Linked DNA regions of Homo sapiens. The protein of the gene in region 2 purifies or fractionates together with the protein of the main gene of each other region. This does not show direct contact. Each region holds a gene or a part of one and is shown on either strand. Other genes may lie near its edges.

Region 1 (3,500 bases), on a different chromosome or scaffold from region 2:
GCCTTGGTTCAGGGGTCATCTACTCATGCCTGATGGCTGCAGCCACCTCCTCACTGGGCTCCCCTGCCTGCTTCCTGCCTTCTGGCCTTGCTCATCCATTCTCCACACTACTGCCAGAGGTGTCTTTTTAAAATGTGTATCTGACTAGGTTATTCATCCACTGAAAGCCTTCTTGGGTGCCTACAATCAATACAAGCCCTCACCATAGCTCCCTGACTCCCCACCTTCATCTCCCATCATCCCTGCCTTCCTCTTTTTTTTATTTTCTTTTATTTATTTTTTATTTATTTATTTATTTTTTGAGGCAGAGTCTCACTCTGTTGCCCAGGCTGGAATGCAGTGGCGCGATCTTGGCTCACTGCAGTCTCCGCTGCCCAGGTTTAAGTGATTCTCCTTCCTCAGCCTCCCGAGTAGCTGGGATTACAAGGCGCCTGCCACCACGCCCGGCTAATTTTTGTATTTTTAGTAGAGATGTGGTTTCACCATGTTGGCCAGGCTGGCCTCGAACTCCTGACCTCAAGTGATCTGCCCGCCTCGGCCTCCCAAAGTGCTGGGATGACGAGCGTGAGCCACCGCGCCCAGCCATCCCTGCCTTCCTCTTTTTTTTTTTTTTTTTTTTTTTTTTTTTTTTTTTTTTTGAGACGGAGTCTCGCTCTGTCGCCCAGGCCGGACTGCGGACTGCAGTGGCGCAATCTCGGCTCACTGCAAGCTCCGCTTCCCGGGTTCACGCCATTCTCCTGCCTCAGCCTCCCGAGTAGCTGGGACTACAGGCGCCCGCCACCGCGCCCGGCTAATTTTTTGTATTTTTAGTAGAGACGGGGTTTCACCTTGTTAGCCAGGATGGTCTCGATCTCCTGACCTCATGATCCACCCGCCTCGGCCTCCCAAAGTGCTGGGATTACAGGCGTGAGCCACCGCGCCCGGCCCCTGCCTTCCTCTTATGGTCTCTTCACGCCAGCTCCTGTACCTGCCAGGCTATGGATCATCTCTGGCTTTGCTTATGCAGTATCTGTGGCCTGGAAAATTCTTTCCTTGTCCAGCCTCCTTTTGGCCTGGCTAACTCCTACCATTCTACAGAGGCCCAGCTCTGATGTCTCCCCACCTGGAAGGCTCTCCCTGATCTCCATCTCCCCACTACCCTGAGCTGGTTGGCAGCCAGTCCTAGTGTGGACTCCATCACTGTAATTACCACCTCACATAAATTTTCAATTTATGGGTATCTGCTTCCCTAGCCTCTCCCCAGGCTGTGAGTTCTTGAAGGTGGAGACTGTGACTTAGTCGCCTTTTTTCCTTTTCAGCATATACTAGATGCTTGGTAAAAATTGGGTGGATGGATGGATGGATAGATGGGTAAAGTGACCCAAAATAGCAAGGCTATGGGAGAGAGAACTCTGGAACTCTAGAGTTGGGAAACTGGCCACCCACTGGCTGTGTGACATTGGACAAGTCACCGCCCCTCTCTGGGTCCATTTCCCCATTTGTAAAGTCTCTTCTGACTCCAACAGACTGGAATTCTTGAAGATTCCTGGCAGGTACACTGTGAATGAGGGGAGTTTGCTCTTCTGCCCTAAATGTGATGGGCCAGGTTGAGTGTGAAAATCCTGAGGTTCCCCCTTCCCAACAAGAAATTCATCCCCTGCCTGTCTTCTACCCCACATGGTACAGTGATACCCTCCCCCCTGGGGCTTTTACCTCTTTGTGGCTGCAGGTGGCAGGTGCTCTGGCTGAGGCTGGTGTGGGGCTGGAGGAGATCGCAAAGCAGGTGAACGTGGTCGCCAAGGCCATGGGTGAGTGCTGGCCTGGGAGCTGGGGAAGAGAGTGGGGAAGGTTGGACAGCCCTGGGGCGAGGAGCAGGTTCCTGTTGGCTGCCTAGCGGTGCTCCCCAGGTTATTCCCCAGGGGTCTAGGGAGTGTATCCCTGGGGGAGCTCCTGGGGACTGGTGGCCTTGGGTACCATGGCTGAGGTGGAGAGTCTGGCAGCCTTTCTCAGAGAAGAGGGTACCTGTGGGCAGGGCCTCTGAGATGCTGCTGCCACCCTTCCTGATGCCCAGTGCTAAGAGTGGAACAGTCATCCCTTCATGCCTTGTTTCTCATAGGTACCCTGGGGGTGAGCTTATCCTCCTGCAGCGTCCCTGGTTCCAAACCCACCTTCGAGCTCTCAGCCGACGAGGTGGAGCTGGGCCTGGGTAAGCTTGTGGCCATCCATCCCAGCCCTGCCTGCTCCTTGGCCCTGGACTTTGCCCACCTTGCATACCCTTAGAGCCATCAACCTGGTCCTCTCCCCAGGTGGTCTTAGTATTTTTACCTGGTCATTTGAGGCCCAGCCTGGGCCAACCTGCCTGATTTCTACCTGCTTTGCTGTCTATACCCACAGCTTTGGCCATGTGGAGCTCTGTGCACTGCCCACCTCCTAGCCTTTGCCTGCCATTCCCAGGTCCTCCTGTCCCTGCCAGAATACACCCTTCTTTCAACGGCTGTTCAAAGATCACCTGGCTGCAAAGCTTTCTTTCCTCGCCTGTGCTTCCTCCTTAACTATCTCTAGTTAAAGCTATCTCCACCACCAGGCCACAAGCTCCCAGAGAACAGAGATCGTGTTTTTCATTATTCTGTCCATTTCCATCCCCCACTCCCGCCCACTTACTGTGTGAGTCCAGCACTGTGTGAGTCCTTGATAAAAACGATGAGCAAATCCCCAGGCCTTGAGTGGGTCAGCAGTGACCACATCTATCCGCAGGGATCCACGGGGAAGCTGGTGTGCGCCGGATAAAGGTAGGTGGTCCCTCTGGCACAGGCCGCCCTAAGGCCAAGGCCCCCCAGATGCAGCTCATTCCTGGCTCCCTCTGACAGATGGCAACCGCCGATGAGATTGTGAAACTCATGCTCGACCACATGACAAACACCACCAACGCGTCCCATGTGCCTGTGCAGCCCGGTGGGTAGCCTCTCGCCCGCGTCTCCCAACCCCTCCTAAACCTCTGGGGAGGAGACGCCCAGAGGGTCTCACCTGGGGTGTCATGTCTACCCGCAGGCTCCTCAGTTGTGATGATGGTCAACAACCTGGGTGGCCTGTCATTCCTGGAACTGGGCATCATAGCCGACGCTACCGTCCGCTCCCTGGGTGAGCCATGCACTGGGAAGGGGATCCTACAGCCCTTTGGAAAGGGCTGAGGGAGGGTCTTGTGATGGCAGAGAACACGGACTGTGCGTCAGATAAGCCTGAGTTAAATCGTCTCTCTGCCACCTAATTGCCGGATACCTTGAGCCTCTGTTTGTTTTCTTGTCTGCAAATTGGGGGTAATAATAATGGTACCTGCTTTATACCGTTGTTTTGAGGATTAAGTGAGATTAAACATATGTAAGACACTCAACACAGCGCCCAGCACCTGGCACGAACTGAGTAAATGAGACCTGTAATTACTCATCTTCCCCGACGTAGGGGACACCTCCAGGGAACGTGGTCATTTGTGGGGTTATTGAGGGATGCCTGCCAGGAGGAAATCA
Region 2 (3,500 bases):
GCAAGACAGCAAGGGCACCCCTGGGCCACTGCTGTGTTTGGGAGGCAGGTTTTGGGGGTTGTCAGAAGGCATTCACCTGGTTCTCTCGCTCACCTGAGACACCCGATAGATTCCTGGAAACTCCAGGAAAGTATCTGAAGATCTGGTTCTCCATTCTCTCTTATTAACAAGGAGAACCACAAGTGCCCCCCAGATCCCGGCTAGAAGGACCAGACAGCTTTCCACCCCGGTTCCCAGGCAGCCCTGCTCCCATAGTCCTGTGTCCCATCGGCCCCATGCTCCCAGGACAGTCCTAATTCCCACCTCTCAGAACCTTGTCAGCCAAGTTCTTCCTGCTCTCTGGCCCAAATCCTCCTCCTACATTGGAAACTGAGCCTCTCTGCATCCTCTGCTCTTTCTATCCCGCTGTCATTCATCAGATTTTCCAAATCTTTGGATTCCTGAGTGGCAGAAGAGGTTTTCTGAGTTTAAGTTCTGATTCTGTGTGTGATTCTCACTCTACCACCTCTTCAAACCTTTGTTGTCTTATCTACAAAATAGAATAGTAGTAATCCATCACCTAAGGTTGTTGTGAAGGTTCAATAAGTTAATGCGTATTTAAAATGCCTCCCACAGTACCTGACATATACTGGGCTTCAGTGAGGTACTAGCTATTATTATTAACCAAGTTTCCTGTGGTAACAGTTGTAGCTTTGTGACTGGGCCAAATCACTTAACCCCTCTGCGCTCCAGTCTTTGTTTCTATAATGGGGATGATGATAATGCCTAGCTCATTGGATTGTTCTGTCCCCTACGATCAGCCATGTTAAGTGATTCATATCATGTCTGGTACTTAAAAATCACGCCACGCATGTACATTATTATGATGAAAAATATGATCCGTGATATCCTGACCAAAATATTAAAGGGACTAAAGATAGCTGTGGCTTGTTCAAGAAGAATATTGTGTCACTATCCCATATATTATCCCATTTGCTCTTCACAGCTTCCATTTTTCGCTAGGCGGATGGCATGGAACTTTTTATAAATGAGATATTATGAAAAATGATGTTTTAGGACTCTCATTTCTACAGTGGGAGTAGGTCACCCATTGCAATTTTGGATTTGCTTAAAAAAATTCTTGCCATCACCTTCTAATGGATGATCTGTGTACAACAATTGTTTATTGACTCTGAATGTCTAAGTACCAGGGTCAGTCTATTTCAAGGGGAGGGAAGCATTAATTAACCTCCAGCATTAGATTCAGTGATTCTTTTCCAATGATGCAGTTCATGACTTTGCTCGCATTTACTTTTCATCAATCCTGAAAGAATTGAGGTAAAATAGTTCCTCTGCACATGTGTGTCAAGCTAAATGGATAACAGCAGATACAGATCTGTTTGCCTGTCTGCACTTGCCTTTAGACAAAATTCATCAATTTTACAAAAGCCACTGACTAAACATGGCACCAATACAAATGAAGCACTTCTAGCAGGCGGAGATTCCCTTTGTTTCTGATCTGGTAAATGCGGTAGTTTCCTGCTGAGAGATGGGAAGTGCTGGCCTAGGACAGCAAGGTGCCCTACAGGTGGGGCCAAAAGGGTCAAGACCGTTCTACAGGAAGTTTAGGAGAAGTTCAATGGTTCCAGATCCTGTGTGCTTCGGGTAATTCTGACCCTCTTCATTAGTGATAATGGCATGAAGCTCTTTCACACAGTCTTTTTTTTTTTTCTTTTTTTTTTTCAGACAGGGTCTCACCCTGTCACGTAGGCTGGAGTGCAGTGGTGAGATCACGGCTCACTGCAGCCTCGACTTCATGGGCTCAAGCGATTCTCCTGCCTCAGCCTCCTAAGTAGTCGGGATCATAGGCACTTGCCACCACATCCGGCTAATTTTTTTGTAGAGACAGGATTTCACCACATTACACAGGCTGGTTTCAAACTCCGAGGCTCAAGTGATCTGCCTGCATCGGCCTCCCAAAGCGCTGAGATTACAAGCGTGAGCCACTACGCCTTGCCCTCCACACAGCCTTGCTTGGTGTTAAAGATTAAACAAAGACCACAGGTGATCACTGTCTTCGTGGTGCCAGTTTCAAGGGCACCCTTCTTCCCTTCCCAGCCTCCGAGAGAAGGAGAGAGGGTCCACAAGCCAGATCCATCCCCATCCACACAGGTAAAACCACGACTGTGCAGCTAGCAGGTGGAGATAACATTTGGAAAAAGGCTTTGTAAATGCTAAAGTCCTACTCAAGTCCAAGGGAGAGAAATTATTATTATTCGTTTTGTGAAACCAATTTAGTTTGGCTGGGTAATGGAAGAATTTCTACATACATTCATTACTTCTGATCAGGCAAGACCAGTCTGACACAGGAACAGTCTATGGCTCACTCTTAAAGCCACAGCAGGCTGCCAGGGCTTGGAGAAATAGAAACCTCTCTTGCACAAGAATAGTCTCAATGAATCATGTTAAGGCCTCTTTAGGTTTTTCAGACTCCATGCACCCTGTGGAAACTGCCTTTCTTGAGTAGAGGTACGTTCAGCACTTCATAAAATAATCTTGGAGCCTCCAGACACACGGATGGAGGAGCATGATTTCATTTGTTTCTTTGCAAAACTGCTGTCCCCAACTGAAAAACCTGATTATCCTTTCAAATAGGGAATTCGGCTTTCCACGTTGGAACCAGAACAGTTAACCTTCAAACCCCCAAGGCTTGCAAGAGATGAATCAGTTTCTCAGACAGCCAAAGCCGTGGCTTATAACTCATCCAACCCAGAAAACTGGACCGCTGGTCACCTTCCTTCCCCCTGCCCCCAACTCTGCAGACAGAGGTTTCCCGTTGATTATGCCTTGATTAGAGTCAGGAGAGAAGCAAACCAGGTATATAGGATTCCATTATCCTTCCCTCCTCTGCTCCCAACCAGGGTCACGCTGAGAGGGATCTCGGTGAACATGTGAACAATCAAGCCATGTTTACCATGGACGTTTAGTTTTCTTTTCTCAAAATCAAAACAGAGTTTAGTAGGCAGCGTATTTCATACATGCCCCTTGATCAATGGAATGATCTGTCAGAAGCCATTAAAGCCCCCATTAGCTTGAATGCATTCAAAGCTAAACTATTGGATCATTTAAGGGCTGCAGTGATTGTTTTTAATATACCGTACATTGATTTCTCCCTGTGAGCAGCAACATAAGTTTGAAACTAACTGTGTATGACTAAGGCTCCATTTGCTGTCTCCAACCCTCTGTGAGAAGCATGGTTTCACTTCGACCAGAAATGTCTGTGTATAGTTTTCAAAGAGATGCAGACCCTGTTCGATTTCCCAAGATTTAGACTGGGTCGGGTTGTTATTTCTTTTTTCCCTGAGCTTTCTCCCATTTCTTTGTGCCCATTAAGTGAGCTGTGCGTGCAGAATGGGAGAGGCATCCCTGCCAAGGACTTCAAGTGAAAGGCGGTGGGAGAAATTGTTCTGAAAGCATGAAGCCCAGCTGAGGCCAAAATCAAAGTGAATTTGACAGCCTTG

Evidence for each region. The genes of interacting proteins can lie anywhere in the genome.
Region 1: the proteins of FTO (region 2) and TKFC fractionate together in Homo sapiens (co-fractionation; one large-scale study listed by BioGRID). This does not show direct contact.

Annotation. Positions count from the first base shown.
Region 1 is NC_000011.10:61,339,728-61,343,227, forward strand, and holds part of TKFC (triokinase/FMN cyclase), read left to right. Parts: intron 1-1,708; coding exon 1,709-1,787; intron 1,788-2,095; coding exon 2,096-2,185; intron 2,186-2,733; coding exon 2,734-2,768; intron 2,769-2,846; coding exon 2,847-2,931; intron 2,932-3,027; coding exon 3,028-3,117; intron 3,118-3,500.
Region 2 is NC_000016.10:54,116,656-54,120,155, forward strand, and holds part of FTO (alpha-ketoglutarate-dependent dioxygenase FTO), read left to right. Parts: 3' UTR 1-3,500.